2 linked regions of the Homo sapiens genome follow. The protein of the gene in region 1 interacts with the protein of each later gene in a pairwise test. Each region holds a gene or a part of one and is shown on either strand. Other genes may lie near its edges.

Evidence for each region.
Region 2: the proteins of HSD17B3 (region 1) and NCS1 interact in binary tests that used the Homo sapiens proteins (3 or more experiments, as listed by UniProt).

What each region holds. Positions count from the first base shown.
Region 1 is NC_000009.12:96,294,453-96,310,592, forward strand, and holds the start of HSD17B3 (17-beta-hydroxysteroid dehydrogenase type 3), read right to left. Parts: upstream 7,725-16,140; 5' UTR 7,653-7,724; coding exon 7,499-7,652; intron 4,011-7,498; coding exon 3,964-4,010; intron 1-3,963. UniProt on the Homo sapiens protein: Catalyzes the conversion of 17-oxosteroids to 17beta-hydroxysteroids. Favors the reduction of androstenedione to testosterone. Testosterone is the key androgen driving male development and function. Uses NADPH while the two other EDH17B enzymes use NADH.
Region 2 is NC_000009.12:130,213,313-130,228,478, reverse strand, and holds part of NCS1 (neuronal calcium sensor 1), read right to left. Parts: intron 10,648-15,166; coding exon 10,509-10,647; intron 8,755-10,508; coding exon 8,676-8,754; intron 5,830-8,675; coding exon 5,741-5,829; intron 5,398-5,740; coding exon 5,320-5,397; intron 2,091-5,319; coding exon 1,992-2,090; 3' UTR 1,975-1,991; intron 1-1,974. UniProt on the Homo sapiens protein: Neuronal calcium sensor, regulator of G protein-coupled receptor phosphorylation in a calcium dependent manner. Directly regulates GRK1 (RHOK), but not GRK2 to GRK5. Can substitute for calmodulin. Stimulates PI4KB kinase activity.

The sequences.
Region 1 (16,140 bases):
TGAAACAATAAAGAAATGAATGGCTAAGGACAGCTTCCACATGGGGTCTCCCCTAAGCAGAAAGAAGAGTGTCTGAGTCTTGCGATAGCAAGGGACCACAGGAAGGTCAGGTCAGCATGAACTTGAGAAAAGATTCTGGAGAATCGTGAAGAATTGCTTGGCAATCCAGGGAACTTAGAGGTAAGGTGAAGAACCTTTTGGTTGACATATTAGGTCTTTCCAAAACCTGGTCCAGGGTGAGAAATCGTTATATAAAAGGTTATATAGTTTTAATGCAAATAGCTAGAAACATTTTCCTTCTGATTTGGGGGAATGGAAGACACATTGTTTTGAAAAGTGACTGCTGGGTGGTCTCTCCAACTTCAACACTCAAATATGACCACTCATCTACCGAGTGTCAGCCACTCCTGTTCACCAGTAAGTTGCTATACATGAATTAGAATAAAAGCAAATAACTCCTTATCTTAAAAATAAACAGAGATGAGATAGAAGGGTCAGTGTCAAAAAATCATCAGCAGCAGATGAAGGACGGGGGTCAGACACGAGGAGCTTTTTTTTTTTTTTTTTTTTTTTGAGATGGTGTCTCGCTCTGTCGCCAGGCTGGTATGCAGTGGCACAATCTCGGCCCACTGCAACCTTCACCTCCTGGGTTCAAGCGATTCTCCTGCCTCAGCCTCCTGAGTAGCTGGGATTACAGGTAAGCACCACCACGCCTGGCTAATTTTTGTATTTTTAGTAGAGACGGGGTTTCACTACGTTGGTCAGGCTGGTCTGGAACTCCTGACCTCATGATCTGCCCACCTTGGCCTCCCAAAGTGTTGGGATTACAGGCGTGAGCCACCACACCGGGCCACAAGGAGTTTTTTGGTTTGTTTTTGTTTTTGTTTTTGTTTTTGTTTCAGACGAAGTCTCACTCTTGTCCCCCAGGCTGGAGTGCAATGGCACAATTTCAGCTCACTGCAACCTCCACCTCCTGGGTTCAAGCAATTCTCCTGCCTCAGCCTCCCAAGTAGCTGGGATTACAAGCACCCGCCACCACACCCAGCTAATTTTTGTATTGTAAGTAGAGACGGAGTTTCACCATGTTGGCCAGGCTGGTCTGGAACTCCTGACCTCAGGTGATCCACCCTCCTCGGCCTCCCAAAGTGCTGGGATTACAGGCGTGAGCCACTGCGCCCAGCCCACGAGGAGCTTTTTTAACTGACATGCTTGAGGTTTGTTAACATACGCCAAGTTTCTAGCAAGTGCGTCCCAGATGCCTTGCACTGCTGTTTCACATAAGATGGCTTTGTTATGATGCAAGCCGTCTGGGACAAGAAAAGGCATGGGTACTGTACTGTAGTTGAATGCATTTTTCATATGAACCGAATGTTTTGTGGCCCCCCCAAAATTCATATGCTGAAATCCTAACCCCCAATGAGATGACACTTGGAGGTAAGGCTTTCAGGAGGTAATCAGGTCATGAGAGTGGGGCCTTCACGATGAGATTAATGTCCTTATGGGAAGAAACACCAGGCCAGGCATGGTGGCTCATGTCTGTAATCCCAGTACTTTGGGAGGCCGAGGCAGGCAGATCACTTGAGCCCAGGAGTTCAAGACCAGCCTGGGCAACATGGTGAAACCCTGTCAGTACAAAAAATTTAAAAATTAGCCAGGCGTGATGGCACACGCCCGTAGTCCCTGATACTCAGGAGGCTGAGTGGGAGTATCACTTGAGCCCAGGAGGTTGAGGCTGCAGTGAGCTGTTTGCACCACTGCACTCCAGCCTGAGCAACAGAGCAAGAACCTGTCTCCAAAAAGTAAAAGAAGAAGAAACATCAGAGAGTTTGCTTCCCCTCTCTCTGCTCTCTGCCGTGTGAAGCTACATCAAGAAGACAATTGTCTGCAAACCAAGAAGAGAGCCCTTGCCAGACATCAGATCTGCTGGCACCTCGCTCTTGGACTTCCCAGCCTCCAGAACCCTAAGAAATACATGCTTGCTTAGGCCACTCAGCTTATGGAATTCATTCTGCAGCTGAAGCTGATGAAGACCACATCTGTCTCAGAAATGGGTGTAATTACTATAACATAGTGGAAAGCACTGGAACCTTACATATATTCACAACCTCTAACCCAGCAAGACCACCTCAAGAAAATAGCTCCCAAAATAATTGGATATAAGCAGAAAAGTTTCTGTATTTACTCCCAATTTTATATAAAATGAAGAAAAATTCAGAAAAAAATTAAAATTTTTACCAAGAAAATGGTTAAATTATGGACCATCCATTTGATGGAATATTATGTTGCCATTTAAAAATCAGGGTTTTCGGCAGGCTGCAGTGGTTCATGCCTGTAATCCCAGCACTATGGGAGGCCAAAGCAGGCAGATAACTTGAGCTCAGGAGTTCAAGACCAGCCTGGACAACAGAGGAACAGTGAAACCCTGTCTCTACAAAAAATACATGAGCCTGTAGTTCCAGGAGGACACATTGCTTCGGGAGGCTGAGGTGGGAGGATTGCTTGAGCCCAGGAGGTCAAGGCTGCAGTAAGCAGTGTTTGTACCACTGCATTCCAGCCTGGGCAACAGAGCAAGTGTCTCAAAAAAAAAAAAACCCACAGTTTTGACATAAGAAAATGCTCACAACTAATGTAACATTTAAAAAATAATGGTATGTATAATCTGGGATTTGAGATAAATTTAGGAGAAACTGTTAGGTTTCAAATATCTTTCTCTTCAAGAATGTGGTATTTTTTTCTCTTATTTGGAATATCTCATATTTCTCAATGGAATTTTACAGTTTTCTTGAAAAAGACCTACAAATTTTATGTTAACTGTATTTCTAGGATTACTTATTTTTCTATTGCAAATGGAAAAGCTTTTCATTATATTTTTAAGGTGTTATTGATTTCTTTTTTTTTTTTTTTTTTTTTTGGAGACAAAGTCTTGCTCTATTGCCCAGGCTGGCGTGCAATGGTGCGATCTCAGCTCACTGCAACCTCTGCCTCCCAGGTTCAAGAGATTCTCCTGCCTCAGCCTCCCAAGTAGCTGGGATTACAGGCACCTGCCAACACACCCTGCTAATTTTTGTATTTTAAGTAGAGATGAGGTTTCACCATGTTGGCCAGGCTGGTCTCGAACTCCTGACCTCAGGTGATCCACCTGCCTCGGCCTCCCAAAGTGCTGGGATTACAGGAGTGAGCCACCGTGCCCAGCTGGTGTTATTGATTTTTAAACAGCTTTCCTCTTACAGTTTCTAGAATTCTTTCTATTCTTCTATTGTATTTGACATGGTTCTAGACATCAGTGTAATAGGCATAAGGAAGAAATAAAATACATAGGAATTCCAGGAAACAATGTTTCATTAATAAAAATGTGAAATTTATAATTATAATAGCATATAAAACCACATATGTTATAAATGCATTTTTTAAAGTATAATTATCAATCTATCTATCTACAGAGAAATAAGCGTGGAAGCAAATACTCAAAAATACTAATTGTATTCTAGTGACTCTCAGTTCTATTAGACCTTCTTTTTATAGAATATGCTATAATGCCATTAATGTCCTTGAAATGAAAGTCACTGATAATATGTTTTGCCTAAGCAAGTGACTTTTAAAAAATCAATATATGCCCTAGCTTAATGTAAATAATAAATAAAAGGAAAGTAGTTTATAATGTTTTGAAAAAATTAAAGTATATAAGCTGATATGGCACAATTACACTAGAAAATACCAATGCCCCACAAATTCCCAAAACAATCCCTAAGGCAAGGTACTGTCACCTTTGAATATCATTGTGTTTAAAAAAAGAGATCCAGGGAGTGAGATTATTATTTTTGTTTGCTTTTCCATAGAGTATATTTTCTCCTTTAAATGAATGCATACTGCTTTTATATTCAAAAATCTAGTGTTGGGGTGGATGTCTCAGGACTGTGATTGTTCAATACAAGGGAGGAGAAAGTCCCCAGGAAGATAGCTTACCTCGAACGAGTACGCTTTCCCAATTCCATCGCCTGCTCCAGTGATCACTGTGAAAAGCAAGAATGCTTTTAAAAGACAGAATTCATCTTTAAACTTCTCTTTCTCACTGGCCACGTTTTCTCACAAGCCTAGTCTCCAGGGCAGTCAGTACTCCAAAGGTTCATCCCTTTGCTCTCCAGCCCACGCCCTTGAAGCCCCTCACTAAACATTCAGGTGAAAGGATTGTTTGGTTGGTGGGTGGGTTGGTTGGTTGGTTGGTTTGTTGGTTGGTTGGTTGGTTGGTTAGTTGGTGTTTTGGAGGGATTGGCGAGACTGTGGAAAACATGTTCCAAAATGAAACAGATCCGCAGCCAGGGAACATTTCCTGCAGGCCCCATGAGGATGCAGATATTGTGAGCCTTCACCCCACAAGGGCAGGCAGTGTTCCCCATTATCTCTCTGCCCAGGCACCCATCTGTCATTGTAAGGACATTTCAAGGTTCCTTCTAAAAGTGGAGCTCTGCCCACTTCTCACCCCCACCCCACAGCAGCAATTAAAGGCCTATGGAAGGTAGGGAATTTAGCAAAGAGGAAAATACCAAAATGCAAAAAGAAAATGCAGTGAAATGAAGAAACCTGAAGAATTTGTACTCAATAGAACTATCTGTTAATATACAACAGTCAAATAGGTCTGCTAGTCCTTTCATATCAACATTACAGACATATTTAATGATTGAGCTCTAGTATACGCTTCATTCGTGAGAACGTCACAATTTCAAAATTCACTACAATTCGGTATATCGTAAAACTTACAATTTACCCTTGCAACAACAATTAAAGGGCATGCTTTCAAAAAGTGTGAACAAAAGGTACATTTAGCTCACCTGAGAGTGAGTGCAGGCCAAGCTGTACAAGCCTCACGGACCACACTGGCTTTAATAATTACTAATGATGTGTCTGTTCGTTTAGGAACTTCTAAGAGGCTCCATGCACACCGTCTGCAGCTCTGGGTGGAGGAACTATGCTCAGGGCATCTTGGGCCTTACCTTCCCCTCCCTGTGGGGAATCTTCAATTCACCCAATACAGGGCCTACACTACAGGCAAGATGATACCATCAATAATAACGACGGATAACGGTCACACACTCACTTCTTGCCATGTACTGCTTCTAGTGTTTTAGATGCATCATCTCATTTAATGTTCAAAACAAACCTAAAATGCAGGGACCATCATTATCCTTAGTTTATAAATGAGGAAGCCAAGGGGAAAAAGTTCGTAACTTGATTAAGGTCACACTGCTAAAAATGATGACACAAGGATTTGAACCCAGGCTGTCTGACTTTGGGGCCCTGAGTCTATGAATATACACTAAGAAAAGAATTAGGAAATCCAGCACAGAGCTCAGGGTACTCTATCTGAGGAATTAAAAATTTAGCCTCTAGTTCTTGCGTTTCTTTTTTGTCCCCTACTTGAAATATATTATCTCCCTGATATCTGCCTCTGCCCAAACATATTTTACTCCTGCTAGAGGTAACTCTATCCATCTTGACTCATAAAAACAGGTTAAGATCATGTTTTTCCTTTGAGTCACCAAATGCTCTTAGTCTCTGTCCCCATTTGAACTTCTTTTAGAATGTAGGTTTTTAGAAGGGCTTTCCCTACACAAACGACAGCAGCTGTGCAGAGTGCTACGTCCACCCACACGTGGGCATCTGAATCTGTGTGGAGTGGGGTATTTAAATCCAGAACACTCAGGTCAAGCTGCTGAGCAAGTTCAAGCAAGTTCACTCCTGACAGCATAATACCCCAAGAGGACACACACACACACACACACACACACACACACACACACACACACGCACACAGCAAATATAAGACGCAGAAGTCAAAAATCCATTTGTCATCCCAAACAATTTCTCACACGGTAATTTTTTTAATTTCCATTGCTAAGTTTTTAAGGTTGCCAGGTTTAGCAAATAAGGATACAGAATGCCCACTTAAATTTGAAATTAAGGTAAATTATGAATTGTTTAATGCATGTCTCATGCCATATGTGAGTTATACTAAAAAAGTATTCCTTTTTTTCTGAAATTTAAATTTAACTGGGTATCCTGTATTTTATCTGGCAGCCCTATAAGCATATTAGAATCTTTCCTATTTTGCCTAGATAATATCTCTAAAGTCACTTAATCATTTTTGTCATTGGATTCTTTGTGTGTGTGTGTGTGTGTGTGTGTGTGTGTCCAAATTTGAAATATAAGGCCCTGCAAAGACTTTAGCATTTCAGATATTCAAGGAGATGCTGAAACCATGGCCTCATGCTCTTCACCTTAACTTCAGTCATAGGGCTGAAGTTCTGCATGGGCGTTCCAGTAGATAAATCCCATGGGGAGGCAGCATTAATTGACACCAGCCAGACCCAGATTCCATTCCATACCATCCTGAAAACATGGCTCCATAGAGTTATGCGTTGCCTTGATTTTGTAACACCTTCATTTCTTAAAAACACTTGGATCCTTTTTTTAATACAATGAGTTAAAATTATTTAGATTTCAAAATTTGGAAACACCTTTTAGTAAAGTGAAAGCACCCTGGGCTTTTTGTAAATTTAGAGATGAGGATGCAGAAATTTCTGCATTATTTATTATTTGTATTAGCAGGAAACTCCCAAAAGAAGAAAACTCATCTAATGGGGTTGAGAGGATAAGTGCTTAGCAAGGGCTGGGTAGCCTTCTGCCCTAGTGTTCCCCTAATGCCCTACAGCTTGTGTTGCAGACCATTCTAATTTCACTCACACTTTTCTAATCCCCCCAATTAAAATTACCCAAAGGAATTACTTCTTTGCTCTCAAAGAGAAAAAAATGCAATATCCCTTTTGAGACATAAATAATAATAAGCAGGGGCTGGGTGCGGTGGCTCACGCCTGTCATCCCAGCCGTTGGGGAGGCCGAGTCGGGTGAATCACAAGGTCAAGAGTTTGAGACCAGCCTAGCCAACAGGGTGAAACCCTGTCTCTACTAAAAATACAAAACGTTGGCTGGGTGCGGTGGCTCACGCCTGTAATCTCAGCACTTTGAGAGGCTAAAGTGGGCAAATCATGAGGTCAGGAGTTCGAGACCAGCCTGGCCAACATGGGGGAACCCTGTCTCTACTAAAATACAAAAAATTAGCCAGCCGTAGTAGTGTGTGCCTGTAATCCCAGCTACTTGGGAGGCCGAGGCAGGAGAATTGCTTGAACCCAGGAGGCAGAGGTTGCAGTGAGCAGAGATCGCACTACTGCACTCCAGCCCGGGCAACAGAGTGAGACTCTGTCTCAAAAAAAAAAAAAAAACACCATTAGCCAGGTGTGGTGACAGGCGCCTATAATCCCAGCTACTTGGGAGGCTGAGGCAGGAGAATTGCTTAAACCCGGGAAGCGGAGGTTGCAGTGAGCCAAGATCGCGCCATTGCACTCCAGCCTGGGTGACAGAGCAAGTGTCTGTCTCAAAAATAATAATAATAGTAACAAGCAGGAACAACAGCAGCAAAAAAACATGAGATGGAACACTCCCTTACCTGCCCACTGTCCCATTGACCGCAAGAAAGACTTTGGCAAAACTTTCCAGTAGTTCAGTAAAACACATCTGGAGAATCTCACGCACTTCGCCAGGCAGGCCAGGCACACCAGCAGCCCTGTGAGGATGAAGAACTGTTCCAGGACGTCCCCCATGGCTGCACTCAACAGACTGTTTCAGCCCTGGCCGTGGCTCTCTGTGTATGCCTCCTGGGACCACGCTGCTCTGGAGACCTCCAGATCTTCTTCCAGGAGTCACTGGACGTGTTCCATCAAGTCAGGGGCATCTAGATTAAAGTAACTTCTTTACATAATCCTCTGACTCACAGGCCTTTGAATAAGGCTTTTGTTACTGTGGAGGAGCTGGTGAAAAAGTAAAAGGTGGACATGAAGGGAAAAAAACAAAGCCTGGACAAATATAAAATGGCAGCCCACAGTTCTCTCCCTGAATTTGGGAAAGTTAAAAAGGATGCAGAATCCAAGGCAATTATTCATACATTTAGCACTATGTATTGACTGCCTACCAGGTGGAGTCCCCTCTTGAAGGCATTAGGAAGTTAATAGTGACCACAGAGGGTCTCTCTGGTTTGGAGCTTAGATTCTGGTAGCAGGGACAGATGATGAGCAGATAAATAAGATAACATCAGATGGGGCAGTGGCTCACGCCCATAATCCCAACATTTTGGGAAGCCAAGGCAGGCGGGTCACATGAAGTCAAGAGTTCAAGACCAGCCTGGCCAACATGGTGAAACCTCATCTCTACTTAAAATACAAAAATTAGCCAGGCCTGGTGGTGGGCACCTGTAATCCCAGCTACTTGGGAGGCTGAGGCAGGAGAATCACTTGAACTTGGGAGGCGGAGGTTGCAGTGAGCCAAGATCACGCCATTGCACTCCAGCCTGGGTGACAGAGTGAGATTCTGTCTCAAAAAAAAAAAAAAGATAACATCAGTGCTATGAAAAAGCACTATTGAATGATGTGTTTGAGTAGCTACTCAGGGAATGCTTCAGAGAGGGTGTTCAGGAAGGAATTCCATGAAGAGGTGGCATTTTTAGTTGAAATTTGAATGAAAAGGAGCCAGCTCCGCAAAGATGAGTTTCCCCCTCCAGGCTAATGGAACGGCTAGTACAATGCCTGAAGTGAGAAAAATCCACGTATTTGAGGAATAAGAACTAGGACAGGACAGGCATGGTGGCTCACGCCTGTAATCCCAGCACTTTGGGAGGCCGAGGCAGGCGGATCACAAGGTCAGGAGATTGAGACCTACTAAAAATACAATAATTAGCTGGGTGTGGTGGAGCATGCCTGTAATCTTAACTACTTCGGAGGCTGAGGCAGGAGAATCGCTTGAACCTGGGAGGTGGAAGTTGCAGTGAGCTGAGATTGTGCCACTGCACTCCAGTCTGGGCGACAGAGCAAGACTCCATCTCAAAAAAAAAAAAAACACTAGGACAACACAGCAGAGGGACTGGCCACAGAGAGTAAGGGAGGAAAAGGCCAGAGCAGGAGGGAGGAGCCATGCCCTACGGGTGAGTGTGGACTTTCAGAGCAACCAGAAGCCATTGCACAGATTTAGGAAACAGAGTTCTATACTCTGAATTATGCTTTTAAAAGGCCACTGGATGCTGAGGGAAGATGTCCTTCTGGGGGTGGGATGGAGGGTGGGTGTGACAACTGAAGCAAGGGCAGCCAGGATACTGAAGTCATCCCTGCAGAGGCCACAGGATCAGTCCTTGGCCTTCTCTCATTTCTGCCTGTGCTCACTCTCAGCTCACTCTGTGCTGCAATCAACAGCCTTGCGCTCACCCTAGAAGCAGAATTGCTGGCCAGAACATAGATTCATACGTCTTTATGCTAGATATTGTCAGATTTGCCTTCATTTTGCATTCACGCCAACAACACGTGAGCATGTTCGTTTTCCCACTGCCTTAGCAGTAAAGCATGTTGTCAAGCTTTGGGACTTTTGCCACCCAGTAGGTAAGAAGTAGCATCCAATGTTGTTTTAAGTTTAAATTATCTTATCAGCCAGGTTGGAGAGATTTTCTTAAGCCTAAGAGCTATTTTCACTGTTTTCTTTGTGAATTTTCTCTCTCCTGCCCGTTTTTCTATGTGGTTTTTGGTCTTTCCCTTCTCTGTATTTAGAGATGGTTTCAGGACTCTGATTAGTCAGAAATTCGACCTGCTCACTCTGTCCTTCATGGTCATTGATTATCTCTTCAGGTGTGTCTGATCATTGTTAAGTCAGCCCATTGTGGTTTTTATTTTAATGACCTTAACTTCATTTCTAAAAGTTCCTTTTCTTTTTTGCAAAACTGAGGCTTTTCTTCTTATGGTTCTCTGCTCCATGCAGATATTTTTAATTTTGACTTTCTTTACCTCAGCATAATTGTCTTATGATCTGGCTTTAACAATTCCAGTACCTACATCAGCCTTTCTGTTGCTGTCTCCTCTCTCTGGTAGGTCTCACTCATGGTGCCCTGTTTCCTTGTGTGCTTGATAATTTTCACCTGTGCACATCCCATTTTGCTTGGAAATTTCTCTGTGAGGTTTTCTGATGAAGCTGTATTCCTCCATAGAGGAGGTGGTTTTGCTTCTACCAGATACCTAGAGGAACTTCCAATTTGGAAAATTAAATTCATGGCTAAATTCATAGTTTTCTAAACCATGCAGGTGAAGTGAATTTGGTCTGCCATGACACCCCACCCTGGCCTGTGTTGATAAACCCATAGGACGGTTCTCTGGCCATCTCCACCCACCACCACCTCCTCTGCTCAGTGCCAAGGTGCATTTCCTTGTAGTCCGGGAGCATGTTTCTTCTGGACCACGGTTACCCTGAGGATGTAGAAACCTTTTGGGACCCCGGCCTTATGGAATGTTCATCTATTAGACTCTTCCTGACCTTCATTTCTGTCCCATACCATCACCACTGAAGCTCCCCATCACCCCGTCCAGCAAATGCAGGGCTTATGTGGCTTCAGTGCTCAATTTACCTCTCTGTATTGCTGCTTTCTCTTATACTGAAATTTTTGACTATCTTAATAGGTTTAATGCTTTTAATAAGCTCTTTGAGAATATCTCTTCTGCCCACAAAAACATGGATAAATCATATTTTGTCAAGCAAAAGAAGTCACAGAAAAGTACTGCATTAGTTATCTATTCTGTATAACAAATTAACCCAAAACTTAGTTGCCTAAACAATGCCATGTATTATCTCATGATTTCTGTGGGTCAGGAATCCAGGCATGGATCAACTGGATCCTCTAGCTCAAGGTCTTTCACAGGTGGCAATAAAGTCCAGCCAGGTGGCCGTCATCTCCAGGCTCACCTGGGGAAACAGCAGCCCAGTCACTTGTTTGTTGCAGGATCCGGTTGCTCCTCCTTTGTTCCTTGCTGTGTGGGCCTCCTCACAGGGCAGCTCCCAAGAGCAGCTTGCTTCATCAGATCTAGCCAGTGAGAAGAATCAGACAGAGAGAGAAGGCAGAAGCCACACTCTTGTAATCTGATCTCGGAAGGGCCATTCCATCACTTTAGCTGCATTCTGTGCATTAGAAGCAAGTTCCTAGATCCACTCCATATTCAAAGGGAAAAGATCACACAAGGGAGTGAACATAGCGGGTGGGGATCATTGAGATCCATTATAGAAACTGCCTTCTACATGTACATACCATAGGATGTTATTTATAGGAAGTTAAAGAACAGGCAAACATAATCTTCAGTAAAATAAAATCAGAACACTTGTTGCCTGGTAGAGGTGAAGGGATTGGCTAGAAGGGTCATAGGGAACTTTTCTGGTTGATTAAGATGTTCTATATTTTGATAAGCAATGTGTTCGGAAGGGCATGCCTTAATCAAAACTCACTGGACTGTACACTTTTAAGCTCTGTGCAATTTATTGCATGTAAATTATCTGGAAACTTCAAACAAATTTTATCCTGCAGTTATTCTTTGGATGGTGGATAATTTAGACTTCCGTTACCAGAACTGTAAGCCGCAATTCATTTGTGTGCTTGGTCACAGACCAAGATTTCCCCACTTTTACTTTTCAGCATCAAAAACTATATCCAACCCCATGTAATAGATTGAGAAATTACATACCAATATCTGACTGTGAATTCAGCAAAGCTTTTAAATAAATGTGTATTTTTCTATTTGCAAGATGCTATGACTTGTATCACCTACCCCCTGGCCCCAGCCAAAATTCATGTATTGAAGGCCTAACCCCCAGTGTGATGATATTTGGAGATAGAGCCTTTTGGGGGTGATGAGATCATGAGGGTGGGGCCTTCATGGTAAGATTAATGCCCTTAAATGAAGAGACACAAGGCTGGGTGCGATGGCTCACACCTGTAATCCCAGCACTTTGGGAGGCCAGGGTGGGTGGATCACCTGAGGTCAGGAGTTCTAGAGGAGCCTGGCCAACATGGTGAAACCCCATCTCTACTAAAAATACAAAAATAAGCCAGGCATGGTGGCACCCGCTTGTAATCCCAGCTACTCGGGAGGCTGAGGCATGAGAATTGCTTGAACCCAGGAGGCCGAGGTTGCAGTGAGCCAAGATCGCACCACTGCACTCCCAGCATGGGCGACAGAACGAGACTCCATCTCAAAAAAAAAAAAAAAAAAAAAAGAAGAAGAAGAAGAGACACAAGAGATCTCCCTCTCTCTCTCCACCACATGAGGGCACAGCAAGCAAACAAGCAGACCACTGTCTATAAGCCGGCAAGAGAGCCCTCACCAGGAACCAAGTGGGCCACCACCTTGATCTTGGACTTCTCAGCCTCCACAACTGTAAGAACAAAATTCTGCCATTTAAACCACTCAGTCTGTGGTATTTTTCTATAGCAGCCCGACCTGACACAGAGTACATGGGAGCGTTTAAAAATTAAATTCTTCAACGTGGAGACATGTTATTTCCCCAGCATATGTTTGCTGTTGTTTTCTGCTCCACTTGAGAAATGTGACTGAATGACTGATATTATTATAGCAATAACATTAATGCCGATGTAAAACTTCTAAATACATGATTTTCAAAACTCAATAAATAGTAACCAGAAAAAAAAATTCTTACCATACATCTAGCAACTCTGCATAGTTGCTAAGCAGAGAAAAACAGTTTGAGAACTGGATCTCCAAAACAGGGATCATAAACTCAGATGCTCACAGTGGTGGAAGGCAGGTGATGTAAGTCCATGAAACAGGGCAGGGACTTTGTGCTGTACTTTTTTTTTTTTTTTCTTTTCAAGACAGAGTCTTGCTCTGTTGCCCAGGCTGGAGTGCAGTGGTGTGATCTCGGCTCACTGCAACTTCTGCCTCCCGGGTTCAAGCAATTCTCCTGCCTCAGCCTCCTGAGTAGCTGCGATTACAGGTGCCCGTCATCGCGCCTGGCTAATTTTTGTATTTTTAGTAGAGACAGGGTTTCACCATGTTGGCCAGGCTGATCTCAAACTCCTGACCTCATGATCCGCCACCTCGGCCTCCCAAAGTGCTGAGATTACAGGCGTGAGCCACCGTGCCTGGCCTTGTGCTACACTTTTCCCTACAGACACAGAGCAGGTATAATGTTCACTTCCACAGACAAATGCACTCTCTTTCATTGTCTTTGAAATCTTGTCTCTCTTGATTTAGCTTTTATTTTCTTGTTTTCCTCTCAGCTCTACTTTAGGAAATGACACTACAAACACCCTGAAGGATAGAGACTGACCCTAAGCCTCCACTCGTGGGACATAGAGAACAGGGAACATGGAGAACATGAAACAGAAACTGTCCACTCCACCCAGCTCCAGCTGTCCTGTGGAACTGTGGCCTAGTAGGCAAATTGTGATTTTTTTTAAGTGATAAAAAAAATCCAGTTTCTAATAAGACATGTCTCCATTTTTATAAAAAATGTTATGAAAATAACAACTGGAATATAAAGCAACAAACTCCGAAACCATGTTAACACCGCATAGACAAAATAAAACACATCTGCAGCCCTCCAAGGGCCCGTGGATGAAAGGTCTGAGGCTTCAGATTAAGGAGGTGAATTAACTTAGTTAAGTGCAGTGTGCATGTACTTGGTGGGGCAGTGGGGCTGGGATTGAAGTGGGTGAGGAGACAGTGAACAGAATGCAATAACCAAGTTCACTGAGTACCCTCTCCACAACACTACAGTAAAGCTAGGAGGAGCAGAGGCAAGAACAAATATGGAAAAGCTGGTAGCACTGAGAAAACACATAAAGTCAGTAAACCAAGCTTGATATGGGTCCAAACAAGGCCTTAGATGCAGGACATAAGGGAGCAACTCAAAGGTCAAAGAACATCTTGAAGTAACAGACATGAGCAGAAAATTGGCCGGGCACAGTGGCTCATGCCTGTAATCCCAGTACTTTGGGAGGCTGAGGCAGGCGAATCACGAGGTCAGCAGTTCAAGACCAGCCTGGCCAAAATGGTGAAACCCCGTCTCTAATAAAAATACAAAAGATTAGCCGGGCATAGTGGCGGGCGCCTGTACTACTTGGGAGGCTGAGGCAGGAGAATCGCTTGAACACAGGAGGCAGAGGTTGCAGTGAGCTGAGATCGCACCACTGCACTCCAGCCAGGTGACAGAGTGAGACCCCATCTCAAAAAAAAAAAAAAGACATGGGCAGAAAATTAAATGAAGAAATACAACTAGTATGCAAATGTGTGGAATGTTTAACCTCATACATTATTAGAAATGTCAACTGAATGAGTAAAATACTACATACACATAAGCTAGTAAATAGAGCATCAGGCTCGCATGCAGTGCTCATGAGGTTGCAATGGAACTGAGACTCTCCTCCGTGCCTCCGTGGTGTAGATTAAACAGCAGAGGCTTTCTGAAATACACTCTGTACACAGCTTCCCAGGGGAAGGGGAATCTTTTGGGGGTCATGGAAATGTTTTAAAACTGTATTGGGGTGATGGTTGCACAGCTCTATAAATTAACCCCCAAATCATTAAACTGTACACTTAAAATTGCTGGTCTTTAAGATATTTAAATAATACCTCGATCAAGCTGTTTTTTTAAAACTGGCAGAGCTAGGACGTGGCCCCAGGCCGTCTGATTCCAGAGGCTGTCATCACACAACTTCTGCCCACCTCCACCATCACAACAGGAGAATAAGGCACCTTTAGAAAGTCCAGCCATCCCGATGTCAGCAGCTTCCTTGGTTGGTTTCCTTGATAAAATGCACAAGGACTGGATGATCTTATTCAACTCTCAAGGTGACCCCATCCACCCTGCTCTTCAAGCCAGTACCCCAAGTTTGAGATGAAAATGCAAGAACAAGTCAGTCTAGAAGAATTGTTCTGAACTAAGGTTCCCAAATCACTAGAGAGTTCCTGAAAACAAGAATGGCCATCCTCAAGTCATTTTCAGTATCCCCCAAAAGTCAAATTTTCAGAAGACTTTTCTATCACAAAGCTGTAAGGATTAAGACAGTCATCAACTCTCCGTACTTTTGGCTAGAATTAACTCCAGTCAGCTGGTTAGTAACATCAGCTATCTCATGTCAACCAGAAATTCTAATTGGGAATCACACAGTTTTGACAAATACAAAATACAGATTGTGCACAAGTACAATTTTATGTTTTGAAGGTTTTTTCAAAGTGTTGGCCTGAGGGAGCACTAACCAGGGGGTGCTGGGGTTGAAAGAGTGGGAAACCCCCTGGAGGAGAGCGCTAAGGGATTGGTTCCTACTTTTGGATCTCACAGAACGGGTACTCAGTAAATGGTAGTTGTCATTAACAGTATTGCTATTGCAGATGTGATCACATTTAACAAAACCTGGAGGAGCAAGCATTTCTATAATTGTGAGTGGCTAGCAATGGCAGAAAGGGTGTGCAGTCTCAGCCCATCAATAAAAAGGGTCCTTCTACCAGCTGATCAAGGACACCCTGGGAGTCTAGAAGATGGGATAAATACTCGCTTCTTGCTCCCATCCAACTACCTTTCAAGGCCTGCTTGGCCTCCGTTCAGCTCATCATTGCTAGCTGTCCCTATCCTATGAAGTTCCCGTTCGTAAACATCCTACACAGAAACCCAACTCTATCTTGCTAATATGCAGGCTCTCTCATGCCAGGGGTGAACATGTGGAGGCACAAAGAAGAAGAGAGCAGGGAACCACACCCTGTCAAATAAACTCTCATGAATATTCCAAGTTTAGTTTACTTAAGAAGAGAGAATTTCGCCTTCATTTACGTTTTACGTTAAGAGAAATTCATTGAAGAAAAACAACATCCTGAAGCTTGCCCTTTGATTATATGGTCTATTCATTCATTCAACAAGGATCTTTCTGTATGCACCGTGTACCAGGCCTTGTTCTACTCAATTTAGAGTTTTTAGAGCCAGCTTTATGGGCATAAACTCCACTTCAGGAATCACGTCTTTCTGTCCCAGAATCAGTGAAAAGCCAAATAGCAACAAGCTTTTCTGTAGCAGGTGCTTACTAATGTTTCTTTCTATTCTTTTTCAGGGTAATTTATTCTTATCTATACTGAAAATGTTTATTAAACTAAGGCTCACCACACAAAGTAAGCTACATAGTTTACTCAAGAAAGATAACCAGGGGAAAAGAAAGAGGTTTTGGAGCTGCCAGAGCTGTGTTATCCAAATCACTAACCACTGGCCATATGTGGTTATTTA
Region 2 (15,166 bases), about 34 Mb from region 1:
GCCGAGGTAGGAGGATCACTTGAGGTCAAGAGTTCCAGACCAGCCTGGGCAACATAGTGAGACTCTATCTCTACACTACAGAAAAAAAACAAAACAAAACAAACAAACAAAAAAAACACTTTTTTTTTTAAATTAGCCAGATATGGTGGCAAATGTCTGTAGTCCCAGCTACTTGGAAAGCTGAGGGCTGAGGTGGGAGGCTCGTCTGAGTCTGGGAGGTTGAGGCTGCAGTGAGCCATGACCTGGTGGCTGGGTAACAGAGTGAGACCCAGTCGCAGAAAAAAAAAAGAAAGAAAAAGAAAAAGTGATGGATATCACTTCCAAGATTATGCTATAAAAAGACACTGGCTTTCATCCTGGCTCTCTTTCTCTCCTTCTCTCTTGGAAAGCTCTGAGGGAAGCCGGCAGCCATATTGTGAGGCAGCCCTGTGCAGGTGTCTACATGGCAAGGGAACAAGGCTGCCAAACCACATGAGTGAGCTTGGAAGCAGGTCATCACCAGCCAAACCTTCAGATGAGACCACAGCCCTGGCCAATGGCTGACAAGTATCCCAATTTTCCCGGGACTGAGAAGTTTCCTAGAACAGGGAACTTGCACTGCTAAATCCAGGATAGACCTGGGCAAACCCTATTGACAGCTGAACTGCATACTCCTGAGAGTCCTTGAGCCAGAGGCACCCAGCTTAACTGTGCCAAATTCCTAATGTTTGTTCTTAAGCTGCTGTTTGTGGTAATGTAATATGTAGCAATGGATAACTAACCTAGCACATCACAAATGAGCACATTAAAATGGGTGATACACTTATAACAAGGCATTCAACGTCACTGCTTATCAGAGAAATGCAAAGTAAACTTAGAACAAGTTATTACTCCATACTCACAAAAATGGCTAAAATTTGAAAAGACAGAAAATACCCAGTGTTGGCAAGGATGTGGAGCAACTGGAACTCTCATACACTACTAGTGGGACCGCAAAACAGCACAACCACTTTGGAAACTGTTTTCTAGTAACTACCAAAGCTAAATATTACACATATCCTATGTCCCAGCAATTCTACCCTTACATATACACCAACAGCAGGCATCCACTGGTTCACCAGGACGTGGACAAGAACGCTGATCTCTGGACAATACCTTGGACGTTATTCACACCCACTCCCCGCAGACTACATTGAACACTCCACAAAGAAGAGGCAGGAAAAAAGGGGAGAAGGGAGGAGAGGAGAAGGAAAGAAGGGAGACAGCTCTCTACCAGCAACAGGGGCCTCTGCCAGGCGTGCTATCATTCTGTGACAGCTAGGAGCTTAGTTAGGTCTTCAACCGGCTGCTCAGAGAGGGGATAAGAAATTGCTCTCCCAGGTCCCTGGCCCTGGTTGGGAACTAATTTTCAAAGTGTCTTCCACCCAGGACAATTCTTTTCTTTTTTTTTTTTTCTTTTCTTTTTTTTTTTTTTTTTGAGATGGAGTCTCACTCTGTTACCCAGGCTGGAGTGCAGTGGCACGATCTCGGCTCACTGCAATCTCCACCTCCTGGGTTCAAGCGGTTCTCCTGCCTCAGCCTCCCAAGTAGCTGAGACTAGGTGCGCACCACCACGCCCGCCTGATTTTTGTATTTTTAGTAGAGACGGGGTTTCACCATGTTGGTCAGGCTGGTCTTGAACTCCTGACCTGGTGATCCGCCTGCTTCAGCTTCCCAAAGTGCTGGGATTACAGGCGTGAGCCACCGCGCCCAGAAAAATTCTGTTCAAGCAAACTCGCAGGCTGATCTGGGTCTATAAAAATGATCAAAACAGAGGAGCTCTGACCAATTTGAAGGCCCCCCTTCCAGCCTCCTCCTCCCAGCTATGTCCCTGCTAGGCTGACCACAACACCCCCAGAGACCCAGGTAATTACCTGCCAACCGTAGGTGTCCTGCTGCTGGGTTTTCACCCCTGACCCATCCCAGACCCACCCCAGGCCCCGAGTCTGCACTCACCCAGCTCCAGCCTGGGACTATACCAGCCCGTCGTAGAGGGACAGCGCCTGCACAATGGACGGGTCTGCCTTGGAACCCTCCTGGAACTCCTGCAGGGTCAGCTTCCCGTCGGCATTCTGTGAGCAGAGAGAGGCGGCTGAGGGTGCAGGGCCTCCCAGGAGAGGGCTCTAGACAAGCCCAGCCCAGGGCCGGTCCCAAGAGCCCTTCCAAGGTTAGATCAGGAGGGAGGCAACGTGGCTCAGGGCCTACAAGCAGCCAGCACCAGACAGACCTCGGCACTCATGGCAGGGTGGCCTTGGGCCGTGGCCCACCTCTCTGGGCATGTTTCTTCACCTGGGGATGGAGGGTAATTACCTGGCTTCCTCCAGGCACTCGGGTGACAGCTCTGTGCTTGACCAACTGGAAGTGCCCTGTAACTCCACACGTGTCATGGTTAATGCTATTAAACCCCATCAATGTGAGTAACTGACAAGGCTGAGAGCCTCGTGCAGTTCTCTGGGGTCACTCTTGGAAGGGCATTTAAACTGCTCCTGGAGCAGCCCACACTGGACCCTGGGAGACCCGGCAGGGGGCTGGACATGGCTCAGAAAGAGGAATTTTAGTGGGTCTCTCGGGGAGGGGATGTTTGGGCCAGAATCCCTTCCCCGGAGCATCTCTCAAGGAAGCCGGCGGACCACAAGGAAAAGGCCACGGAGAGCACCTACTCGATCTCGGGTATCCAGAGAGGGTAAGTGCCGAAAACAGCGCCGATGAGCACAACCGAGCTGTGCTCAGGGATCGCTCGCTGCGTACACGACATATGCCAAGCTCGGCGCAACCCTCAGTGTATGGAACCCTCACGGCCAAGCCAAGAAGGGGGTGCTGCTCTCATCCCCATTTTACCAGTGAGGAAGCTGAGGCTCCGTCACCTACCCAGGCCCCAGGGCTGGGAAACGGAGAAGTCAGATTCACACCCCAGTCAGTGTGACTACAGGGTCTGTGCTGTTTCCCAAAATGACGGAAGTGCAGACAGGGGGACAGTAAGGAATGTGCGGCCTTGGCCTTAAGCCACGTGGACGCACACCACGAGAAACTTATTATTCCGTGCTCCACACTCTGTCGATAAATCTTTTGATCATTACCAAGACGCCAGCTGGGTCTGAGGCCAGCACGTCTCTACCACTCCTCTAACATGGGCTAATCTCCCTTTTTTAATTAAGAAAGTACAGGCCTCAGGTCAAAGCTTTTAGGGCAAACAGCTGTCTCCAGCCAGAATCTAATAAGCAGCCCTGCGTTACAGGAATTTCTATGATTGACTGATCGATTGATTGATTGAGACAGGGTCTCACTCTGTCACCCAGGCTGGAGTGCAATGGCACCATCACGGCTCACAGCAGACTTGGTTTCTCAGGCTCCAGCCATCCTCCCACTTCAGCCTCCCGAGTAGCTGGGACCACAGGTGCACACCACCACACCCGGCTAATTTTTGTATTTTTTGTAGAGTCGGGGTTTCATCACGTTGCCCAGGCTGGTCTCAAACTCCTGAGCTCAAGTGATCCACTCGCCTTGGCCTCCCAAAGTGCTGGGATGACAGGTGTGAGCCACCGCACCTGACCATTTTATGTTATTTTGCTGAAGGCACGTAACACCTGGATTTCCCTAACGTCATTATTTCAAATTTACATTTAAGTTATTTTAGTTTTAAGTAAGTTTGATTTAAAGAAGGATTCCTTATTTCTTTGGAGTCCCTTTTTTTAGGCTTTTATTTTAGGCTCAAGGATACATGTGCAGGTTTGTTATATAGGTAAATCCTGTGTTGTGGGGGTTTGCTGTACAGACTATTTTGTCACTCAGGTGATAAGCATAGTACCTGATAATAGGTGGGTTTCGATCCTCACCCTCCTCTCACCCTCCACCCTCAAGTAGGCTCCAGTGTCTATGGTTCCTTTTATTTTATTTTTTTTCTTTTGAGACAGTCTCACTCTTATTGCCCAGGCTGGAGTGCAGTGGTGTGATCTCGGCTCACTGCAACCTCTGCCTCCCAGGTTCAAGCAATTCTCCTCCCTCAGCCTCCCGAGTAGCTGGGATTACAGGCATGTGCCATCATGCCTGGATAATTTTTTTTTTTTTTTTTGAGACTGCGTCTCACTCTGTTGCCCAGGCTGGAGTGCAATGGCGCGATCTCCACTCACTGCAACTGCTGCCTCCCGGATTTTTTTTTTTTTTTTTTTTTAGTAGAGAAAGGGATTCACCATGTTGGCCAGGCTGGTCTCGAACTCCTGACCTCAGGTGATTCACCCGCCTCGGCCTCCCAAAATGCTGGGATTACAGGTGTGAGCCACCACACCTGGCTTTGGTTCCCTTTAAAGAAGGGTTTCTTGGCCAGGCACGGTGGCTCACGCCTATAATCCCAGCACTTTGGGAGGCCGAGGCTGGTGGATCACGAAGTCAGGAGATCGAGACCATCCTGGCTAACACGGTGAAATCCCGTCTCTACTAAAAATACAAAAAATTAGCCAGGTATGGTGGCATGCGCCTGTAGTCCCAGCTACTCGGGAGGCTGAGGCAGGAGAGTTGCGTGAACCCAGGCGGCAGAGCTTGCAGTGAGCCGAGATCGCGCCCGCCACTGCACTCCAGCCTGGGTGACAGGGCGAAGATTCTGTCTCAAAAAAAAAGAGAAGGGTTTCTTAACCTTGGGCCTGTGGATAGAAGTCAGCAGGTCTATGAACTTGGGGGAAAAAAAATCAGCCTTTTTTTACTAACCTCTAACTGAAATGTAGCTTTTCCTTTGATGGAAACCTAGGCGACGGTCCCCAACAGGACCTGCAGTACCTGTGATCTGTCGACAGTAGGGATCACAGGTATTTTCATAACACACCCTAGTTGCTGCAGATATTACAGCTCGCAATTTCGGGGGTTGCTGGACCCACCACTACATCTTAGTGAATGCGTTAAGAAAGCAGCTCACAGAACGCTACATCACAGATTCTTTTTTTAAAATACTCTGACAGCTGTTTTCTAAAATAATCAGCTTCCTTTTTGATCTTATGGATTTTATTTTATGCGCTTAAAGCCATTATGCTGAGAAGTCTGTAGGCTTCTCCAGAATGCCAAAGGGGTCCATGGCAAACAAAAAAAAAAGGCTAAGGACTCTGGTTGATTAAAGAAAACATGCTGAGCAAACTGACTTAAGACTCTGGACACTGGATGGGGCTAGCTGCTGAGCAGGGATAGGACACCGTGCCGCCTGCCGTGAGCCATGGAGGAGGTTGGCAGCAAAGCCAGGCCCAGGATCCAGGGACTCCAATTCCTGCCCCCGACACCTTGCCTCCCTGGTCCAGGACCAGCCCCGCCCCCCCACCTCACCTTATCCATCATGGCAAAGATCCGGTCCACCCTCTTCTCAGGAGTGTTCTCCTCCTCTGGGAGCTCCACGGTATTCCCCTGCAGGGACGGACAAGGCGGGGGTGGGCCCTGGCACTCTGGGCTTTGGGCTCTTGGCCACGCATTTGCCCCCCAGACCTGGCAGTTTCCAGATGAGGGCCGCCCCCCTCTTCTTTCCCCTCCCCATCCCTGCCATTGTGCCCTGGAACATCCCACACCCCAGCCCCACTATCTACCAGCTTGTGCCTGCCTGCCCAGGCAGAGATGTACAGAACGGCTCAGCCAGTGACCCCTGCTTCCACCCTGGGCAGGAGCATGGCTGCACAAGTGCTCTCTCTCTGTCTCTCAGTCACTGGCTTTGCCCCTCCTGCCACCCCTAACCACACGAGACCCGGCTTCTCACCACCATCTGGTAAATGGCATCCACAATGTCCAGCATCTCATTCCTGGTGATGTAGCCATCATTGTCCAAGTCGTAGAGCTTGAAGGCCCCTGTAAGCAAGCAGCACTGCTGAGTGATCCTGGGCTGGGGCAGTGGGGAGGGGTCTTCAACTCGCCCCTCCTCTCTGTACCCCAACATGAAGTCAGCGACCGGATGGCCCATTCCTCATCAGGTCAACTAATATTTACATCAGGATAGACAGGGACAGACACACACACACCATTGCAACTAGGGTTAAAAAAAATAAGGCTGGGCATGGTGGCTCACACCTGTAATCCCAGGACTTTGGGAGGCTGAGGTGAGCAGACTGCTTGAGCCCAGGAGTTCGAGACCAGCCTGGACAACATGGCAAAACCCCGTCTCTACAAAAATACAAAAATTAGCCAGGCCTGGTGGCGGTGCCTGTAGTTCCAGCTACTTGGGAGGTTGAGGTGGGAGGATGGCTTGAGCCCAGGAGGCGAAGTTTGCAATAAGCCGAGATCAAGCCACTGCACTCCAGCCTGGGTGACAGAGCAAGTCTCTCTCCCTCTCTCTCTCTGTATATACATATATATATACGTATATATATATACACATATATATATACGTATATATATATACACACACACATATATATATTTATAGATACATAATTTATATTTATGTATATATATTTATAGATACATAATTTATATTTATGTATATATATTTATATACATAATTTATATTTATGTATATATATTTATATACATAATTTATATTTATGTATATATATTTATATATACATAATTTATATTTATGTATATATATTTATATATACATAATTTATATTTATGTATTATGTATATATATTTATATATACATAATTTATATTTATGTATATATATTTATATATACATAATTTATATTTATGTATATATATTTATATATACATAATTTATATTTATGTGTATATATATATTTATTTATTTATAAATTAAAAATAACAGGGCCAGGCACAGTGACTCACCCCTATAATCCCAGCACTTTGGGAGGCCGAGGCGGGCAGATCACCTGAGGTCAGGAGTTGGAGAACAGCCTGGCCAACAGGATGAAACCCCTTCTCTACTAAAAATACAAAAATTAGCCAGGTGTGGTGGCGGGCGCCTGTAGTTCCAGCTACTTGGGAGGAGGTGAGAGGATGGCTTGAGCCCAGGAGGCGAAGGTTGCAATAAGCCGAGATCGAACTACTGCACTCTAGCCTGGGTGACAGAGCAAGACTCTCTCTTTCTCTCTCTCTCTCTCTCTCTCTCTCTCTCTCTCTCTCTATATATATATATATATATATATATATATATATATATGATATTTTATATATATATTAAATATTTTATATATATATATATTAAAAATAACAGGGCCAGGCACGGTGGCTCACACCTGTAATTCCAGCACTTTGGAAGGCCAAGGTGGGTGGATCATCTGAGGTCAGGAGTTCGAGACCAGCCTGGCCAACATGGCGAAACCCCATTTCTACTAAAAACACAAAAATTAGCCAGGTGTGGTGGCACATGCCTGTAATCCCAGCTACTTGGGAGGCTGAAGCAGGAGAATTGCTTGAACCCAGGAGGCAGAGATTGTAGTGGGCCGAGATTGTGCCACTGCACTCCAGCCTGAGCAACAGAGCGAGACTCTGTCTATAAATAAATAAACAAATAAAATAAAGGGATGGGGCATTGGGCTGCCAGGGCCGAGGTATCAGTGGCTGGAGCTGAGTGCGTGGGAGAGCCCGGGGCCTGGGATGTTACCCAGAGGAGCACCCCTCTCCTTCCCCCAACTCCAGCCCCCACCTCCTCCCCACAGTCCACTCTGCTCCCACAATTATGGTGTGGCCTGCTACAGTCAACATTAGAAAATAAAATAGTGCATTGAGAGGAGGAGCTTTTGCATAAATAAAGTTCTCTTTTATTTCTTAAAAAAAAAAAAAAGAAAGAAAGAAAAAGAAAAAGAAACTGCAGGGTCTTCTTGCTGCCGATGGACTGAAGTGTGAAAGTCTTACTGAGCAGGGAGTTCTGGCCAGCTGGTTTCCATCTTCCCTCCCCTCCACGCACCCTGCATTCCTCCTAATGCCGCCAGGGGCCTGCACAGCTTCCCCTCCCAACTCCCTCTCAGCCTCCCTCCACTGGGCCTCGCACACGCGGGCCCCCTGGCTGGAGCCCTTAACGCCCCCTCCCCAGCTCCTCTCATCCCCAGCTCCTCTCATCCCCAGCTCTGCGCCTACCAGGCAGGTCCTCTCCTGCTCACAACTCCCTCTCTCCTCCTTGCCTGCAGTTTCCTGAGGTTTTTTTTTAAATCCTGCTGCCACTCTAGACTGATCGCCCTGAGAGCAGGGACCCATCTATCTTATCCCCCAGTGGATCCCTGGTACCAACACGTGGCTGCATTCAGTCGTTATTTGGTCAATGAATGAGTGAGTAAGTGAATGACTGAAAGCAAGAATCAAAGCAATGGCTATGAAAGAGGTGGGTCCGGCACTGAACCTGGGTCTTGGGTCCCCACCGACCCTCCTGCGGCCCAAGTCTGCACCTGCCCGAGTGCAGCCAAGGCTCCTGCCAGCCTCTGCCCCCAGCCCTCCCTGTCCACCTGCCTCAGCGAGCTCCTTCCTGCTGCCGGTGCCTCCAGGAAACCCTCCCACCTGGAAGCACAGATGTCTGCGCTGCTCTCTGAACCCTGGACAGTCAGCCTGGCCTAGTTACGTGGCCGTGTGAGGGCCACCTGCCCAGGGCCCAGGCCTGCCCTCTGCAGACACAGCTGGGACGCCATCTGTGGTCACTGCAGTGGGTGTCTGGCACCCCTGCCTGGTGAGGGCCGAGGGCTGCCTCCCTCTGACCTGGGCCCTCCAGCTGCTGCCACACAGGGCCAAGGGGGCAGGACTTACACCGTAGCTTCTCATCCAGGGTTCCCCGTGAGGTCACCGACAGCGCCTGGATGAACTCGGAGAACTCAATTCGCCCGTCCTGACAGGAGAGAGAGGGGATTGCCTCAGTCAGTGCCGGCCAGGCCACCGGGTCAGGCTGAACCTCGGGACGGGCGAGGGGCAGTCGCAGGCTCCAGACACTGTGGCCAATGGACACTCAGGTGGAGAGGGCAGGCTCGAAGGAATGGGGGGCGAGAGGCAAGGAGAGGGTGGGGAGCAGAGGCTGGGGGACTGTGTGGGGGGTTAGAAGTGGGAGAGGCCAGGAGGGAGGCACAGGAAGAAGGACTGAGGCTGAACGGAGAGGCTTACTCCACTCTTGATGGGAGAAGGTGCCAGAAGCACCAATGCCTGAGCTCCTCTCAGCAACAGCCCGGAAGCCCCTCGGCCTAGAGCTGTGGGCTCATGGGCTTTTGCAGAGGAAAGGCCGCTGCAGGTTGTTTAATTCCACCTCTTATTTGCAAATGAAGAAACCGAGGCCCAAGAAGGGAAGAGCCCTTCCCAGGGTCAGGCATGTGACTCCCAGCCTGGGGGCACCTGGGAGAAGCTGGGGATGGGATAGAATAGAAACCTCCACGGTGCCAGCAGCAGGGGGTACAGAGACAAGTGGCAGTAAATCCACCCTCAAATGCTACTGCAGGACAGAATCAGGGTCATCGCAGATAACCCAACAGCTATCCGTGCAGCCACTGCCCGGAGGTGACACAAGCTACCACATGGTAAGTCTTGAAAACATGATGCTCAGTGGAAAACGCCAGGAACAAAAGATCCTATAGCCTACGATTCTCAGAGCCTCAGTTTCCTGACCTACAAAATGGGTATTAAAATACCCAGCTCCCAGGTGCTTGTAAGGCCTCATTAAAAATAATCCATGTATGGCCGGGCAAGGGGGCTTACACCTGAAATCCCAGCACTTTGGGAGACCAAGGTGGGTGGATCATCTGAGGTCAGGAGTTCAAGACCAGCCTGGGCAATACGGTGAAACCCCATCTCTACTAAAAATACAAAAATTAGCCAGGTGTGGTGACGGCGCCTGTAATCCCAGCTTCTCAGGAGGCTGAGGCAGGGGAATTGCTTGAATCTGGGAGGCAGAGGTTGCAGTGAATTGAGACTGCACCACTGCACTCCAGCCTCGGCAACAGAGCAAGACTCTGTCTCAAAAAAAAAAAAAATCCATGTAAAGAGCTTAAACATAGTAAATGTTCAGGAAATATTGGTTATTATTATTAATCCTGTTATTATCATGGGAGGTATTTGCATTTTATGCTTGTAAGAGAAGTGTCAGGGTGTACATGTGTATACATGCATGTGTGTTGTGCACTGTATACATATGCATATGTGTATATGTCTCTCTGTGTGTACACGTGTGTGCACCTGCAAGTCCATGCATTGTGTGCATATGTGTGCATTTCTGTGCACTGTATGAATATACATGTATGTTCACGTGTGTGGCTGCATCTCCATGTATGTGTGCCCACATGTGTGCATGGTATTCGCCTGCATGTGCACATACACGTCTGTGTGAGAGCTTGGATGTGCATGTCAGTACATGTGTGGGTGTACATATGTGTGCACACATGTGCATGCATTTGGATGCATCTGTGTTTATTGTGTGTCTGCATGTGTACATGTGCATGCATTTATGTGCGACTATGTATCTGTGCATGTCAGTATGCACTCGTGTGTGTGTTCCTTCTCTAGAAGGGAACATCGGCAGGAGAGAGTGGGTGTGGAGACGCTGCGGGTACCCACAGGAGCTGAGCCAGCTGCCGCAGGCCCCATCAATCCCCAGCTCACCTTGTTTTCATCAAAGACGTTGAAAACAAATGTGGCAAACTTGGTGGGGTCTCCGAACGGGAAGAATTGCTTGTAGATCTTCTGGAAGCCTGCCGCATCCAGCTGCCCACTGGGGCAGTCCTTGATGAAGCCTTTGTACCTGGAGGCAGCAGACCGGGCCAGAGAGGGTAAAGGAGACGCCAACATCACCCACCCACCACCAACATCGCCTGCCCGGGGCCCAGGAAAGCTGTGGCTCCTTGTTCAAAGAGATGGTGCCCCATGGGGCCATGGACTTGATAGGCACAGGCGCAGTCCCACCTCTGCCTCTCACTAGCAGTGTGACCTTGGATACAGACTTCACCTCTCCTAGCCTCGTCTGCATAAGGGGGTTACGAACTGACATAGGAATTAACCCAGATACTGCACACAGAGTGAGCACTTGGCCACCCAGCCCTGTGCTCCACCCAAGGGGGCTAAAACAAGAGTCACATGAATGGCCTCCCCAAAGCCGCATGCCTGCACAAGACCCTCCCACCTCCCCACCTTCTCTGCTGAGCCCCTCCTGGCATCAGGCTGGGTGGGCTGCTGCTGGTGCTGGTGGGTAGACCACCATATGGAGCCAGCAGGTGGCTCCTCCCACATGCCCACACCCTGCCCCTCAGTCTCTGTTCCCAGGGAACTGGGTAAACAGCATGGGGGGATCCTGGCTGTTCCAACTGGACTTGTCCACCCTGCAGTCCCAGTGCCCAGCACAAAACCCTCCAGATCCCTACGTGGCTGACGCCGGAATGGCTTTGCACTCCCAATCCCAGGACAGATCTCTGCCATTCACTGCCTGTACAGCCTCAAGCAAACGCCCTCACCTGTCTGAGCCTCAGTTTCCTCATCCATAACAAGGGATGGTTCTCATACCCCTCTTGTTGGTATCAGGGGACATGGTGCATGTAACCACAGGGCTTAGCACAAAAATGAGTCGAGAGTGTGATCTTTAGAATTGTGAACTTAAATATGTGTTGTTCTAAACCCAATTCACAAACTGGCTCCTGTAGGCAGTTTAACCACCCCTCCCGCCCCACCCCCAGGAGGACACGCACTCCTCAGAGGACGATTCCTTCCACATCGGGAAGCCAGAGAGAGAGGTCATCTATCACCAACACCGGCTATTAGCTTTGCAGGGCCTGACGCGACTGGGAACTCTGCACACCTTACTCTCCCAGGATGCCCCTAATGGCCCTGAGAAGGTACTACGAGGAAGCCTTTTTTTTTTTTTTTTGAGACAGAGTCTCACTGTGTCGCCCAGGCTGGAGTGCAGTGGCAGGATCACGGCTCACTGCAACCTCCACCTCCCGGGTTCAAGCGATTCTCCTGCCTCAGCCTCCCGAGTAGCTGGGATTACAGGCATGTACCACCACACCCAGCTAATTTTTGTATTTTTAGTAGAGACAGGGTTTTGCCATGTTGGCCAGGCTGGTGTCGAACCCCTGACCTCAGGAGATCTGCCCGCCTCGGCCTCCCAAAGTGCTGGGATTACAGGCGTGAGCCACAGTGCCCGGCCGAGGAAGCCCATTTTACAGATGAAGAAACAGGCTCAGAGAGAGGAAGACATTTGCAAGTCCTCGAAGCCCGGACTACAGCTGAGGTGGGATCGAAGGTGAATGCTGAAGAGGCCGACGCTCAGAGAAGCCAGATCACCGAAGACTTTCACACGTCCCACTGTCCCCCATTCTAATGTGATCCACACAAAGCCTCCACCCTCCCCTCGAACATCGGAGAGGGTTATGGGAGTACCGCGCATGGTGCGCGCGGCACTCTGATTAGGGTCCATACAGAGAGGACGCACATGGAAAAGCCACCGTCCCCCTCCCCAATGAAGAGGAATCTAAGGGGCTGGAATGGATCCTGGGCACATGTGAAGGGACATGTGGGGCACCCAGGGGTGGCACCCTGAAAATTCTGCGGCCTGGAAGGTGAAGCTCAGGCACCCAGCCTCCTGCCAGTACTGTGGCTGCTGCTGCCGGAGTGAGGGCGGTTGAGGGGAGGAGGAGGATGGGGGAGGGCAGAGAAGAGGGAGCAGGATGTGGGAGGGAGGGCAGTTCTTCTTGAGTCAGACCATAGCGGGCACATGACCGTCCCAGCAGTGCCCACAGCAAGCAGGAGGCTGTGAATAGGCCAGCCCTCTGCACCTTTCCCTGTCCCCACCCCAGAACACCTTGAAGGGTGCCAGAGGCCCAGGGAGGTAGGTCCTGGCTCAGGAACCACAGGCCTTTGTAACAGCCCATAATAGCAGCCCAAACCCAGGCACTGTGCTGAGAGGGTGGTTCCCTCGGCAGGTCGGCCCAACCATCCCATTTCACAGATGAGGCACTGAGGCACAGAGAGATCAGGAGATTCATCCACAGCAATGCGTGAGACTCGGAGCCCGCCCTGCCTCTCCTGTCCTCTGCCCTGCCGGCCAGTGTGCGACCCCAGCATCCGTCCCTCCCGTGCATGTGATGTCCGCAGGCCCACCCAGAATCCCTGCAGCCTGGCAGGACTCTCAGGGTCTACTGGCCTCTGCTCAGCCCTGAGGTCTGTTCTGAGCCCCTGCTTGGATTGGCCAAGCAAGAAGGAAGCAAAGCACACGGATCTCAAGTCCCTTCCCACAGCAGGAGGAAGGGACACAGCCACCCCCGTCCTGGCCCTTAAACCTGCCTTCTCCCTGCTTCTTTTGAGTTTCTTCTGTTTCAGCCTGGCCCATGACTCCAGACTCCCAGGCCAGGATGGGCCCCTGGGCAGAGGAGGGAACATGCCTGGCACCAGGACTTAATGACCCATGTGGGGGCACACCCAACTGTCACCAGACATCTCTGGATGTCAGATGGTTACTTCTTCTTCGTGCAAACCTTCTAACTTATCCACAATGACTTTGTGTTACTTGAGTGATTCTAAAAGGTTATTAAAAACAATAAAGACAAAACAAAAGGCACCCAAAGGCCTCCCTGCAGATGGCTCACAGGGGCTGCTCTAAGGAGATGGAGGCTGTGCACAGCGCCAGCACAGTGAGCAGCTGTGAAAGGCTGGCAGTGAAGGTCTTTGCAGAGGGAAACTGGCTTCAGTGGGGAGCCTTTGGGGGCCTATCCAGTTACCCCTGCAGAGGTTATTACTGTGGGGCCCCAGCTCCCTTCTGTGCCAATAGCAGGGGCCCCAAGAAGCCCCCCATGAGGTGATGTCCATGAGAGGGTGCCCAGCCTGATGTTCCAGCTTCCTCCTGCCAAACCCCCCATACTCCACACCCAGACTTCAGACAGGCTCCTCTGAGCCCTCTTCTCACTTGGCCTCGACCTGTCCCCTGGCCCCTCCCCTGCTCTTCAGCCTGCCTGGCCCAGCTGTAGCCAGAATCCCCACCCCCACGATATCTGATCAAGTGCCTCCTCCCCAGTTCGCTTCACGTGTGAGTCCTCGTCCCGCCTCCAGCATCAGCCTGCCCAGTCAGTTCAGCAGGAATCCCCTGCCCTGGAGGCCTCCTCTTAGTTTCCATCTGCTGACCCCTCACCCTGTTCATTGGCTGTGAAGCCTCACTTCCTTGCATTCGGAGTTGATTCCCCTCTCTCTCCCAGGTTGTGATAGTCCTGACACCTATTGCAAGAGTCCCCAGTGAAGCCTTCCTGACCATTTTAAGAAGCGTGAGAATATCGCTTTCTTTAACATGGGCCCACCCACTCTCCCGCCAGGCCCCAGCTTAGATGCTGCTGCTTTCAGGAAGTCGGCCCAGCCCCAGGTCTGAGGCCTCCGGGCCTCCTCTGTGCCCCTGCCCACTTGTCTGTCCCAGCAGAGCCTGTACCACGCTATACCATATGTGCCTCCACGCCAGTCCCCCACCGGAATGTAGGCCCCCTGACACCGCTGTGCCCTGATGACCCGCATGAGGCCTGGCATGTAACATGGTCCTGGGGCATGTTTGTCCGGTGAGGTGAATGAATAAACACACAAATTGCCAGGCAGGGGCAGAGGGAACAAGAGCCCAGTTGGCGTCTGGCTCCTTCTTCCTGAGCCCCATGGAACAGGGACCTCCAGAGACCCTGGCTGAGACCTAAGAGCTCTGTGGGCACAGTTAGAAAACCACTGAGGTGTGGCCAGGCATGGTGGCTCACGCCTGTAATTCCAGCACTTTGGGAGGCAGAGGTGGGCGGATCATTTGAGGTCAGGAGTTTGAGACCAGCCTGGCCAACATGGTGAAACCCTGTCTCTACTATATATACAAAATAAGCACGTGCCTCATGTCTCTAATCCCAGCTACTCAGGAGGCTGAGGTAGGAGAATCACTTGAACCCAGGAGTCAGAGGTTGCAGTGAGCCGAGATCACGCCACTGCACTCCAGCCTGGGCGATAAAGTGAGGCTCCATCTCAAAAAAAAAGAAAAGAAAACCGGTGGGCCAGGCGTGGTGACTCACACCTGTAATCCCAGCACTTTGGGAGGCTGAGACGGGCGGATCACAAGGTCAGGAGATGGAGACCATCCTGGCTGACACGGTGAAACCCCGTCTCTACTAAAAATACAAAAAAATTAGCCGGGCGTGGTGGCGGGCGCCTGTAAGTCCCAGCTACTCAGGAGGCTGAGGCAGGAGAATGGTGAGAACCCAGGAGGCGGAGCTTGCAGTGAGCCGAGATCACGCCACTGCACTCCAGCCTGGGGGACA